Regions from separate parts of the Homo sapiens genome. Here region 1 is linked to region 2. Evidence: fine-mapped expression QTL. Tissue or cell type: prefrontal cortex. Region 2 holds a variant in brackets; the other region holds the start of a gene. All regions are shown on one strand. Distances are between the middles of the regions.

Region 1 (5,383 bases), 82 kb before region 2:
GTTTTTTTAGCATGGAAATGAGATGATAATGAAGCCTGAGGTCTTCCTGAAGTCATTTGGTTGGCTATCTTGGCTCTAATCAGTTTCAGCTGGTCTGGTTAAAAAGGGAACTTTTTATTGCAGGCATCCTTAAAGAGTAGCAGAGTTAGGATAGGGTAGAAATTCAGCTATGTCACATAGGCATTATACTAGGTAACACTAACACCAGGGAAGAAACAGTACCCTTCTCACGAGTGGGGCACTGTCACCAAGGAGATGGTGGGGTGGAGCTCTGCCTACCAACCAAACCGTACATCAAGACTTTATTCTCTTCTTATGCTCTAGAATTTCACAGTAGTATTGGAGATAGGACATTTCCTTAAAGAAAGATGGAAAGCTAAAACAGGTTGCTATTGATCCGCTGGATACAAACAGCTTGCATGTCTGCAAATTATTCTGGTTGACTTGTGCCCAGTCCTGTTCATACAAGGACTTCAAAGACTCACCGGTTCATTCTGGAAACACAGATATTTAAAAACCTCCCATGTTAGCCAGGCACAGCGGCTCTGTAATCCCAGCACTTTCGGAGGCCAAGGCAGGTGGATCACTGGAGGTCAGGGGTTTGAGACCAGCCTAGCCAACATGGTGAAACCCCATTTTTATAAAAAATAAAAATTAACCAGGCGTGATGGTGGGCGCCTATAATCTCACCTACTCGGGAGTCTGAGGCATGAGAATCGCTGAAACCTAGGAGGTAGCGGTTGCAGTGAGCCCAGATCATGCCATTGTGCTCCAGCCTGGGTGACAGAGCGAGACTCTGTCTCAAAACAGAAACAAAAACCACAACGAAAAAACCTCCCATGTTCTTAGGCTCTGGCTCTGTCTGGGACATCTGCTGTCCATAGAGTAACCAAGGGCTATTTCCCAGCCACTAATTCCAGAGGTTTCCAGAGGGTTTTGTTCCCTCCTTCTTTGAACACTGCAGTCCATCAGGGTTTCAAGTAGTCCTGGTTTCCCAAAGTCTTGGTTGAAACCTGAAACACAGGACATTTGACCAAAAAAACAAAACAAAACAAACAAAAAGAAAAAAAGCCCCTATCCTAATGCCACAGAGACCCCAAAACAATTCACCAAGTGCATCAGGCCTCAGAGAATCAAATCAACTCTTTCAGTCTCTGCCAATGGCCATTCTCTCCATAAGTCTCGGGCAAAATTCCCGGTGGGAGGCAAATGAAGCCGTGTCTACACATCTGCTGTCCTCCCTCCCACACACCCTCTCCACTTCCTTCCTCGGTAGGTCACAATCAAAACACCTATGCAAATTTAGTGATTCTTTATAATTTCTTATCCATTGAGCCTCTCATGCTGTGCTTTATCAGTTTTCCATGACCACGAGACGCTCGCAGAACAAGCTAGTGCTTGGGACAACTGAAGATGAAAAATAGATCATTGGAGGTTGTGATCTAGCAAGGAAGATTAGGTTTATACCTAGAAAAGTTAGAAAAGCAGGCGCCTAGAGAGCCAGGTGTCACCATTTTAAAATTAACTCCATCTTTAAACTCGCAACACACATTCCTTGCCAGTTATGACCCGTGGTCATAAGATGTTTACTGCAGAGGAAACCGCTTGGCAATGCCTGCAAGGACAAACTCCTACAACAGCAGAAAGTCCACATGTCCCAATATCACATAACAATATATGCTTTTAAGAAATGTACAATCATGCTTTCATGTACTTATAAACTAAAATGCCAAGGATAACTTTCTTTAAATGGCCAAAGTACTACATCTTGTCACATTGTCAGCCCACCCACACACAGAGATAGCTTAGCTTTTATGTAGATGAGACCCCTGTGTAAGAAGAGTTTAAAACAAAGACAGGGCATTCCTCCTCTTGCTTTCTGAGGACACCCTACTCTGAATCTGAAGAATTTTCAATAAATGATCTCTTCTCACTACACTCTACAACTCACCTTGAATCCCTTTCTGTGGGAGGTCCAGGAACCCTCTCTTGAGGTCTGGATCATAGGGACCCCTTTTTCCAGCAACACAAACATTGACAATATAAAAATAAAGAACATGTTTATCTATGATATCAATGTCTGTATCTGTAAGTATACCTAGCTCAAAATCTGTCTCTTTATTTAGTTTTCTAACTATATGTCTATCTGTATCATAGACATATTAGAAATCATAATTTCTAACATATTGTTGTAGGAGGTCATAACAGAACCTATTATAAAGTGACAGTCTCTTGCTCCTATTTTCTATTATTTCCCATTCAGTCCAGGTAAGTCTTTTTGGGGGACCCTCCCCCACACCCGCTGGAACAGTTACTCTGGCACAGCCGCTCCAGCCTGGATCTCATTTTTGCTTCTCCTGGACTTCTCACTGTGCAGATGTTAGACTCACACTCTCCTCTGGCCTCCTGCTCCTGCTCTGAAAGTGAGCAGTTGTCCCTCTGGGTGGCATTTGAAGTCAAAGCTGGGTCTCTTGACAGTGCCCACCCCTGGTATTCCCACTGCAGGAGGGAGGCCTCTTCTGTTAACAGTGACAGTTATTACAGAACAATGCCTGGAGAGATGATAACTTAGAGCAATTTCATTGTCTTTCCCCTTGACGACTCAGCTCCCACGCTAGAGCAGGTGAGGCAGTGCTTAGGAATAACAAAACAAAATCGCAAAGCCAGGACTTCCTTGAGTTTACTTTGCTTTCTCACTAGATTTTAATTATTATTATTATTATTATTATTATTATTTTGAGATGGAGTTTCACTCTCGTCACCCAGGCTGGAGTGCAATGACGGGATCTCAGCTCACTGCAACCTCTGCCTCCCGGGACCAAGCTATTCTGCCTCAGCCTCCTGAGTAGCTGGGATTACAGGCACCCGCCACCAAGCCTGGCTCATTTTTGTATTTTTAGTAGAGACAGGGTTTCACCATGTTGGCCAGGCTGGTCTCGAACTCCTGACCTCAGGTGATCCGCGTGCCTCAGCCTCCCAAAGTGCTGGGATTACAGGTGTGACCCACGGTGCCCGGCCTCTGACTAGCTTTTTGGAAAATTTCATAGAATGATCCAGGGTTCCAGATTCAATTTACTTTAAGGTGAAATAAGTGGGCTGGTTAGCAAGTGGTCAGCTTTTCTTTGGTGTGAGGATAAAAAGAGGGTGGCTACTTTCTATGGCTTTCCAAACAGTCTCTGTTTCACTTAGTCCAAAAACACGTAATGTTCATATAACAAAGAAATGATACATATTTGAGGTGATGATATACTAAGTTGCCTAATTGGATCATTCCGCCATGTATACAGGTATCAAAACATCACATTTTGTTCTATAAATATATACAGTTACTATTTGTGAATTTAAAATCAAACTATAAAAAATACATTCTACTAATGTTCTAAGATGACTTCTGAGACATTTAGCGTGTATTGATTACTTATACTATGTCTCTCACTGCTTCTACTCATTGAAGAGGTTTATATTGTAAGTAAACATAATTCTTATCATATTCATTTTACAGATAAGGAAACTAAAGTGCAGAATAAATATTTGTCCAAATCTGCACGAGAAAGAGGTTCAACACAGGGCTAGCACCCAGGGATGTCTAGTTTTCAGGACCCACCCTCTCGCGTAGTACACTGCCCCTCCCTCCATTCACTGCAGTTAGGATTCAGGAGCAATAACTGGACACAGTCAAGCCAGTTTGCATCTTTACAGAAAATTCCACCCATTTCGATTAGTGAAGATTCACACGTTTAGCTATGATTTGGCTCCCAGAATTCCTCCAAGTCAGAATATAAACAGAGCTAGACATAGTTCAGACAGTTGTGTCATACCAAAAAAATTTTTAAAAGGATACAGAATCAATCAATCAAGTAGAAAATGAGACATTTTTCATTAAGCTAAAAATAATTAAGTCAATTATTTGGCACTAATGCAACTCTTAAGCCCCGCGGGTGGGAACTTTTGGTTCATAAAAAGTGTTTAGTTCAGATCTGAGCTGAAACAACTTTCAATCTCATTTTCAAGTAGAAAGATGGCAAGGGCCGAGGCGGGCGGATCACAAGGTCGGGAGATCTAGACCATCCTGGCTAACACGGTGAAACCCCGTCTCTACTAAAAATATAAAAAATTAGCCAGGCGTGGTGGCGTGCACCTGTAGTCCCAGCTACTCGGGAGGCTGAGGCAGGAGAATGGCGTGAACCCGGGAGGCGGAGCTTTCAGTGAGCCGACATTGCGCCACTGCACTCCAGCCTGGGTGACAGAGCAAGACTCCGTCTCAAAAAAAAAAAAAAAGAAAGAAAGAAAAAAAAAGAAAAGATGGCAAGGGCTCCTTTACACACCAATAAAATCAGAACAAATACGTATAAGCAACTAGGACAATCCTGGAATATTGTGGGCACCAAGTAAATATCGTGGATGCATCTTATGCAGCCAGACAGGATGATCCAATAATCAGACATCCGAAGGCTCCTGGAGTTTGATCCTCTGAATTCACTCTGCAATATGAAGTCCTGTTATTCTTGGCAACCGATCGTGCTTTTGAAAAAGTGTGTCCCAACTGAGATAACATTGAAATTTTCTGTTTAAAGACACCTCAAATGACTGTGCTCAGGAGTCAGTGTTCCCATCAATGGGTCTGAAGATATTCCTAAGCTCCAAGCCATAATAAATGGCATCTGAAATTATTTCAAGATTAATCATCCTGGGTAGACCTTGAGGGTTAGTCTGAAATTGTACATAACAACCCGGAAAAGCTGTGCATTGCCCAGCTAAAGTGTGGTCCCTGAAAGCCATCACCTGGGCCAGGTAGGCTGCTAGGCCACCCAGAGTAGAAAAATACAGAGCAGCCTACGGGCATATTTTCTTACCCAAGGCCAGTTTAGACAGAAGAGTCACTTGAATAATTGTCCACTTCGTTCGTTCTTCAATCCCAGAGGATACTTACTTTTGGAATATTCACTTTACTCCCCACATAGCCATATTTTTCTCACTTAACTCCATCTCTTCTTCTCTTTAAGGCCTGGTAGAAAATGGCCAAATTTTATAAAATGAGGCAGAAGTGCCTCTAACATTGCCCATATGTGGGAAGATGAAACCTAGGAAAGACAGCTTAGAAGGAGGGAGTCATGGTACCCACTGGGGTTCCTCAATGAGAACATTGTAGAAGGTGTAAATTGGCGGACTCAAGGCTGAATGCAGCCTATAGGTATATTTTCTTGGCCTACATGTCATTGCTTTTAAAATCACATTGGTTTTCAATAGCCAAAGTTCAGGGGGTTTTATATGCAGGGTCCTGGGTTTCAGGCTACTCTTTAAAAGTTTAGAAGATGTGGCAATGCTGGGCCTGTGTTTCTGCATAGCAGCAAAGGCCAGGAGCAGAGTAGCAGCTGCTTGCCTC
Region 2 (5,383 bases):
CTCTCTTACGCTAGAAAATCTTTTTAACAAAGAGGTCTTAGGTAAGGAAATTTGGTAGGCAACCAAATATAGGTAGGATTTAATATTATTTGGGGGGATTTAATAATTTGGAGGGAGGTTTGCTTTTTAAGTGATTCTGATTTTCCATTTCTGGTAGCAGTAGAAAATTTCTTTTTAAATATATTTATTTATATGCAGTCAAAAGCACATAGTCTCAAGACTGCTTTTTGCGTTGAATATTATATTTATGATATACTGCCATTATTATGTATAGTTAGATATCTTTAAATCTCATTATTGTGTATTCTTCCATTATGTAAGTATATTACATTGTATTTATTCTATTGTTCATGCTGCTTTCTTTTCTTTACATGTAGAGCTACTGTGGGCATGCTAGATCATAAATTGCATGTACTTCTAGGTTGTATGTGTACCTTGGAGTGGAGTTGCTGGGTCATAGGATATGCATATGTGCAAGCATTGATAGATATTTCCAAAGAGTTTACTAAAGTGATGTACCGACTACAGGGTATGGGTACAGCAATATAAGGAAACTTTGGTTGCCAGCATTTTGCATATTTGTCTTTTTCGTGTTAGTCATTGTGGTGAGTCTATAGAGATATTGTATTGAATTTCCTTGGTGAAGGTTGAGAACGTATCATGTGATTAGTAGTCATTTGGACAGCCTCTTTGATGAGGAACCCCTTCATAGCATTTCCTCTTTCTTCTATTTGATTGTAAGCAAAGAATCAGTGTAGATGTTACTCTTGGAGGGGAATTGGTGACTGGGAAGGGGTGCATGGTAATGTTCTGTTGCTCGTTCTGGATATGTGGAATTTGTAAAATGTAAGCTGTGCAACTTGTCTGTGTTCTTCTACTTCAAAAACATCTAAAAATTGAAACGGAAATTATTTTTAAGAAAAAATATTGAGTTCACTTCAGGAATAAAACATTAACAACAGGATAGGAAGTTCACAGTTATGAATAAACTCTTGAGTGGCATGATAAAAAAAATATGGTGGGATTACCTAAATCACTGGAGTCTGGGGACCACTGTCTGGGCACTACAGCCCTCATGAGCTCCCGAGCTCATGCTCAGTGAAGCGATGGCGCTAAGTCCCACATGTGTTTGTGGACCATCCTATGCTGCAACATATCTGGAGATGGGGCCTTTGAGAGGGAATTAGGTTTGGATGAGGTCAAGAGGTTGGGGCCATGATGAGGAGATTAGTGCCCTTATAAGAAGCAACAGCAGAAAGCTTGCTCTCTATCTCTCTTCACCGTGTGTGAATAGAGTGACAAGGTGGCCATCCACAAGCCAGGAAGAGAGCCCTCATCAGAAATAGAATTGGCTAGCACCTTTATCTTGGACTTCCCAGCTCCAGAACAATGAGAAATACATTCCTTTGTTTTTTATGCCACCCAGTCTACGGCACATTGTGATATCATCCGAAGCTCACTAATATATCGGGTATACTTAATACGGTCATGTCAGGCAAACAGACTCACAGAAGGTAGGTAAATGGGGGGAATTTTATTTGGGGAACTGGTTACAGAGAGCTGAAATTCAGGCAAGATGATACAACACAGACGTTAATAACCACTGAAAGCCCTAGCACCACAGGGACAATGGGAAAAGATGGTTCTAGCTGAGCCCAGGAGCCGAAGACAATGGGAAGGACTTAGATCCCTGCAGGAGGGAGCATCCCCAGAACTGGAATCCAACTGGAAAGTGTCTAGGTAGGACTAGGCCCATAGAGGGAAGAACCGTCTGATGCGAGATGGAAACGGAGAAGACAGAGCCAGTGCCAGCAGCACTGTCTAGAGAATGGGCTCAGCAATCCCCTGAATTCCCTCATCCTTCTCCCCACCAGTCACCCACCTTTGGCCAAACCTTCCCATATATCAGTGAGCAGAAGAGGCTGAGAAATTTAGCCTACAGGAGTCAAGACCTGTGGCACAGAAAAATCAGTAGAAAGGCAAGTAGTAAATCTGAAAAGAGTACAGTCATAACAACCAAGTGTGTTTCATCCCTATGCCATTTTTATAGAGATAAAAGTCAGGATTTCGAGTAC[T/C]TTCACATTCCTTCATCGACTCTTGTTTATGCCCCAAATACCACAGAATGAGTATCACATATATACTCTGCTACATGAAAAGGAATTTATGGTCTTCATCCCTCACTTTCCTAACTACATTAAACACTTCTTAGGTTTCTCAGATGATTGGCTTCAGTGCGGAACAGATATGAGCAGAGAGCTGACTCTGGGCATCTCGGCTGAATTACATCCTCTCTGGTGGGAAGGCAGAGCTGGGATCCAGGGAACATATGAAGACTTCGTATGAGCATCTCCTAAACCCTCATCAACCATGTCCATGTTCTCAGGTGAACCCCAGTGTTGACATCACTCCTTGGGCTTACACAATCATCAACCTGTACCAGATGAATGCTCTTCTTCCATTGCGGACTTGATCTTAAGGACTGAAAAATACCAGATGCCCAGTATTAAAAACAGCCTAATATTCTCCCATTTCTCTTCCTATATGGAGGAGTCATAAGTTCTCTGGCTTTAAAGTTTTACAGAACCTTCAGTTTCACAGCTTCCATATGTAATAATTTGGTATATGGTTGCAAAAGAAAATATTAGCCTAAAATGAGGCCAGAAAGATAGAAGAAAGGGAGCTAGAGTCTTACCTTCATTTTTTTTACATTGTAAGACTATGAGAACATCTATTATATTCCCCAGGAAAATATGCATAATTTCACTTTTCTATATTCTTGACTAGACCTGATTATTTTTTAGGAGCAGCCCTCGAATAAACAGCAAACCTTACTGACTGAAAAATTCAAACTCCAACTGCTCACAGGCACCATAGAGAGAATGAGAATGAGAACATACACAGGGTGTGTGGTTGGGGTTCATGTGAATTCTTACCTGTTTTTCTTTAATTTACATATTCCAATTTCCACTCTTTGTGACTTCCAGAAACAGAATGTTATCTGAGCCAATTATCTACGTGCATTTTCTCTTCATCTCTCTCCTGAGCCAAATTCTGATTTAATTTCCACCCATGGTGATATGCAGCCATGTACGTAGGCCAGTTGGGCCCATCACATTTGAATGAATGTGATTAGACAGATGTGAGATGGCTCAATCCCAGATGCTTCCTCTAAGCGCTATTGTGGATGTGGAGAGAAACATTATTGGTTGTACTTTTAATATTCAGCAAATTGTCTCAAAATGGCCCCTAGGCACACATAAGGTTCAGTAGCTGGCTGGCATTCCAATCTCACAGTAAGTGAAATTCTAACTTTAGTAATAAATTAACTTGGGAACTTTGGACATATCTCACAAAATCTGTGAGATATCTGACTATGTCATTTTACCAATATCCACACACAAGTCTAGAACAATTACAATGTACAAACCTAGAAATTTGGGACATCTGGTTTACCAGTTGCTCCGCCTCTAGCTCAGCTTTCAAAGATGCTCCTGTTTACAATTAACGGACATGATTATTTCACGCAGATGGAAGGTCTTGCTGTTGGAGTTAAACATATTTGACTCAATCAATAGAGTTATTGTTCTGGGACCAAAATGTCTCTGACTCATAACCTTGCTTTTGCTCTTCCTATCAAATGAGTGTGATATTAATTTCTAGCCCTGCAGTGGTAGAATCCTCCCAGCAATATAAGAAGACGGAAGAAATAAGAACGTCAGTCAAGCACTCCCTTGACATACCTTTTCATTTTACCAGTCACACCACAGCAGCAGAACAAATATTACAGGCTTGTGTAAAGTGCTATAACTAATCCAATAAATGACAAGAGCCTCCCGTCCTCAGTAATTCTCATTTAGGATGTGTTTCTTCTCTAATAGGTTTCCCTCCAAATGCTTTGTGTCATGAATTCGCTACAGCAAAAACCTTTAAGAATCTGAAATTCACTGGAGCTATCCTGCATTTGCAGCCCAGAAATTACTGGCTTTAGCAGTCTTTGCTCTCTCGGTTTAATCTGAACATAAATACAGATATTTGCTTCAACAGTCGCTAAAGGAAAATTATAACACTGTCAAAAAAACTTGGAGAAGCTGCCTGAAAATGGTGTTCATTTCCCTTTTCTTTCAGCATTCTTCTTTGTTAGCACAACTCAGAGGAGTGCACCAGTAGAGTTACTACCTTTCTTCTTTCAATGACGGGGAAAGCCACCACCATCTGCCACATTTTTTTTCTAAAAGCAAAACCCAAACAGAAAAGGTATTTGCTCTTAGCAAATAATCAAAACGCAGCAAATGGACTGTCCCAACATGGTTGCTTTGCGGGGGTCACCTCTTTGGTTGGCAGTGAAAACCGACTCCTGAAATAAAAAGAAAAATTCAAATGTGACAACCGGTCTTCAGATGTTATCACCTTCAACTCATAAGCACTGAAGGAGAGCTAACTACCTTGCACTTCTTGTCACCTTGGTGGGGCATTGCAGGTTCTGGGAAGAAACTGAGGCCACTGAGGCCTGCTTTCCGAGAAAGAGACCAAAGGCCAGAAATGGAGCTAACAGGAAATAAAGACATATGGTTGTTGTTTCTCCCCTCCCTTCCCTCTCTTCCCCTCCCCTCCTCTTCCCTCTCTTCCCCTCCCCTCCCCTCTCTTTCCCTCCCTCCCCTCTCTTCCCCTCCCCTCTCTTCCCTTCCCCTCCCCTCTCCTCCCGTCCCTCCCCTATCCCCTCCCTCCCCTCTCTTCCCTTTCCCTCCCCTCCCCTTCCTTCTTGCCTCCCCTCTCCTCCCCTCCCTCCCCTCTCTTCCGACTCCCTCCCCTCTCTTTCTCTCCCCTCCCCATCCCTTCCCTTTCCTTTTCTCTTTTCTTGTCTTTTCAAACTTTACATTCGATTCCACCTCTTTACAAGCTCCCATTAGCTTAAGGTCAGATAGAAGTTTGCATGCAAACATAGTAAAATAGGCTTCCATACAGCAAACAACTATCAAAAGGTCATGCTTTTTATTTTCACAGACGTAAAAGCCACCATCAACATTTGCAATGAGAGCAGTGAGATGTAACAGCAACAACTGCTACCAATAAACCTAATAATCGCAAAGATCGCACCTAGTTTGTACCGTGTTATATCCCGGTGCAAGACAGTGACTGCTATAAAGCAGGTGATTGTTAAGTATTTTTTGAATGGATGAATGAACGAAATGTAATTTTGAACACTTCCCCCCCTCTTCCCTTGGTACATATATATAGGTGCTATATTTCCTCTTGACACATCAGTGCCACCATCTTCTTCTAAGGCTGGGCGGTACATTTCCCTGATCTATTTGCCTCTGAGCCTACTGGTCAGAGCTTGGTTTAAGGGGAACCCAGGAGTGATTTGGTAGGCAGAAAGAAGCAG

Direction of the effects. Alleles are on the strand shown, and positions count from the first base shown. SD is a standard deviation of normalised expression in the study named.
As copies of T replace C in region 2, the expression in prefrontal cortex of the gene that starts at base 2,498 in region 1 goes down (moderate effect, 0.44 SD a copy in BrainSeq).

The links. PIP is the estimated chance that this variant, and not a neighbour inherited with it, causes the effect.
Region 1: LINC02347 starts here. The variant in region 2 is the best candidate, but not a certain one, in a credible set for the expression of LINC02347 in prefrontal cortex (BrainSeq, PIP 0.54).

Annotation. Positions count from the first base shown.
Region 1 is chr12:126,439,596-126,444,978 of GRCh38, reverse strand. LINC02347 (long intergenic non-protein coding RNA 2347) reads right to left here and starts at 2,498. Exons shown (of 12, transcript NR_130748.1): 1 at 2,391-2,498; 2 at 1,952-2,013; 3 at 1-94. All of the region lies in intron 2 of LINC02825 (long intergenic non-protein coding RNA 2825), which reads left to right.
Region 2 is chr12:126,357,197-126,362,579 of GRCh38, reverse strand. It overlaps LOC105379613 (a long non-coding RNA gene), which reads right to left. Exons shown (of 3, transcript XR_001749379.1): 3 at 4,853-5,383. It overlaps LOC101927531 (a long non-coding RNA gene), which reads right to left and starts at 4,561. Exons shown (of 3, transcript NR_187677.1): 1 at 4,443-4,561; 2 at 2,934-4,354; 3 at 1,515-2,479. The variant T/C (reference allele first, on the strand shown) is at 2,076.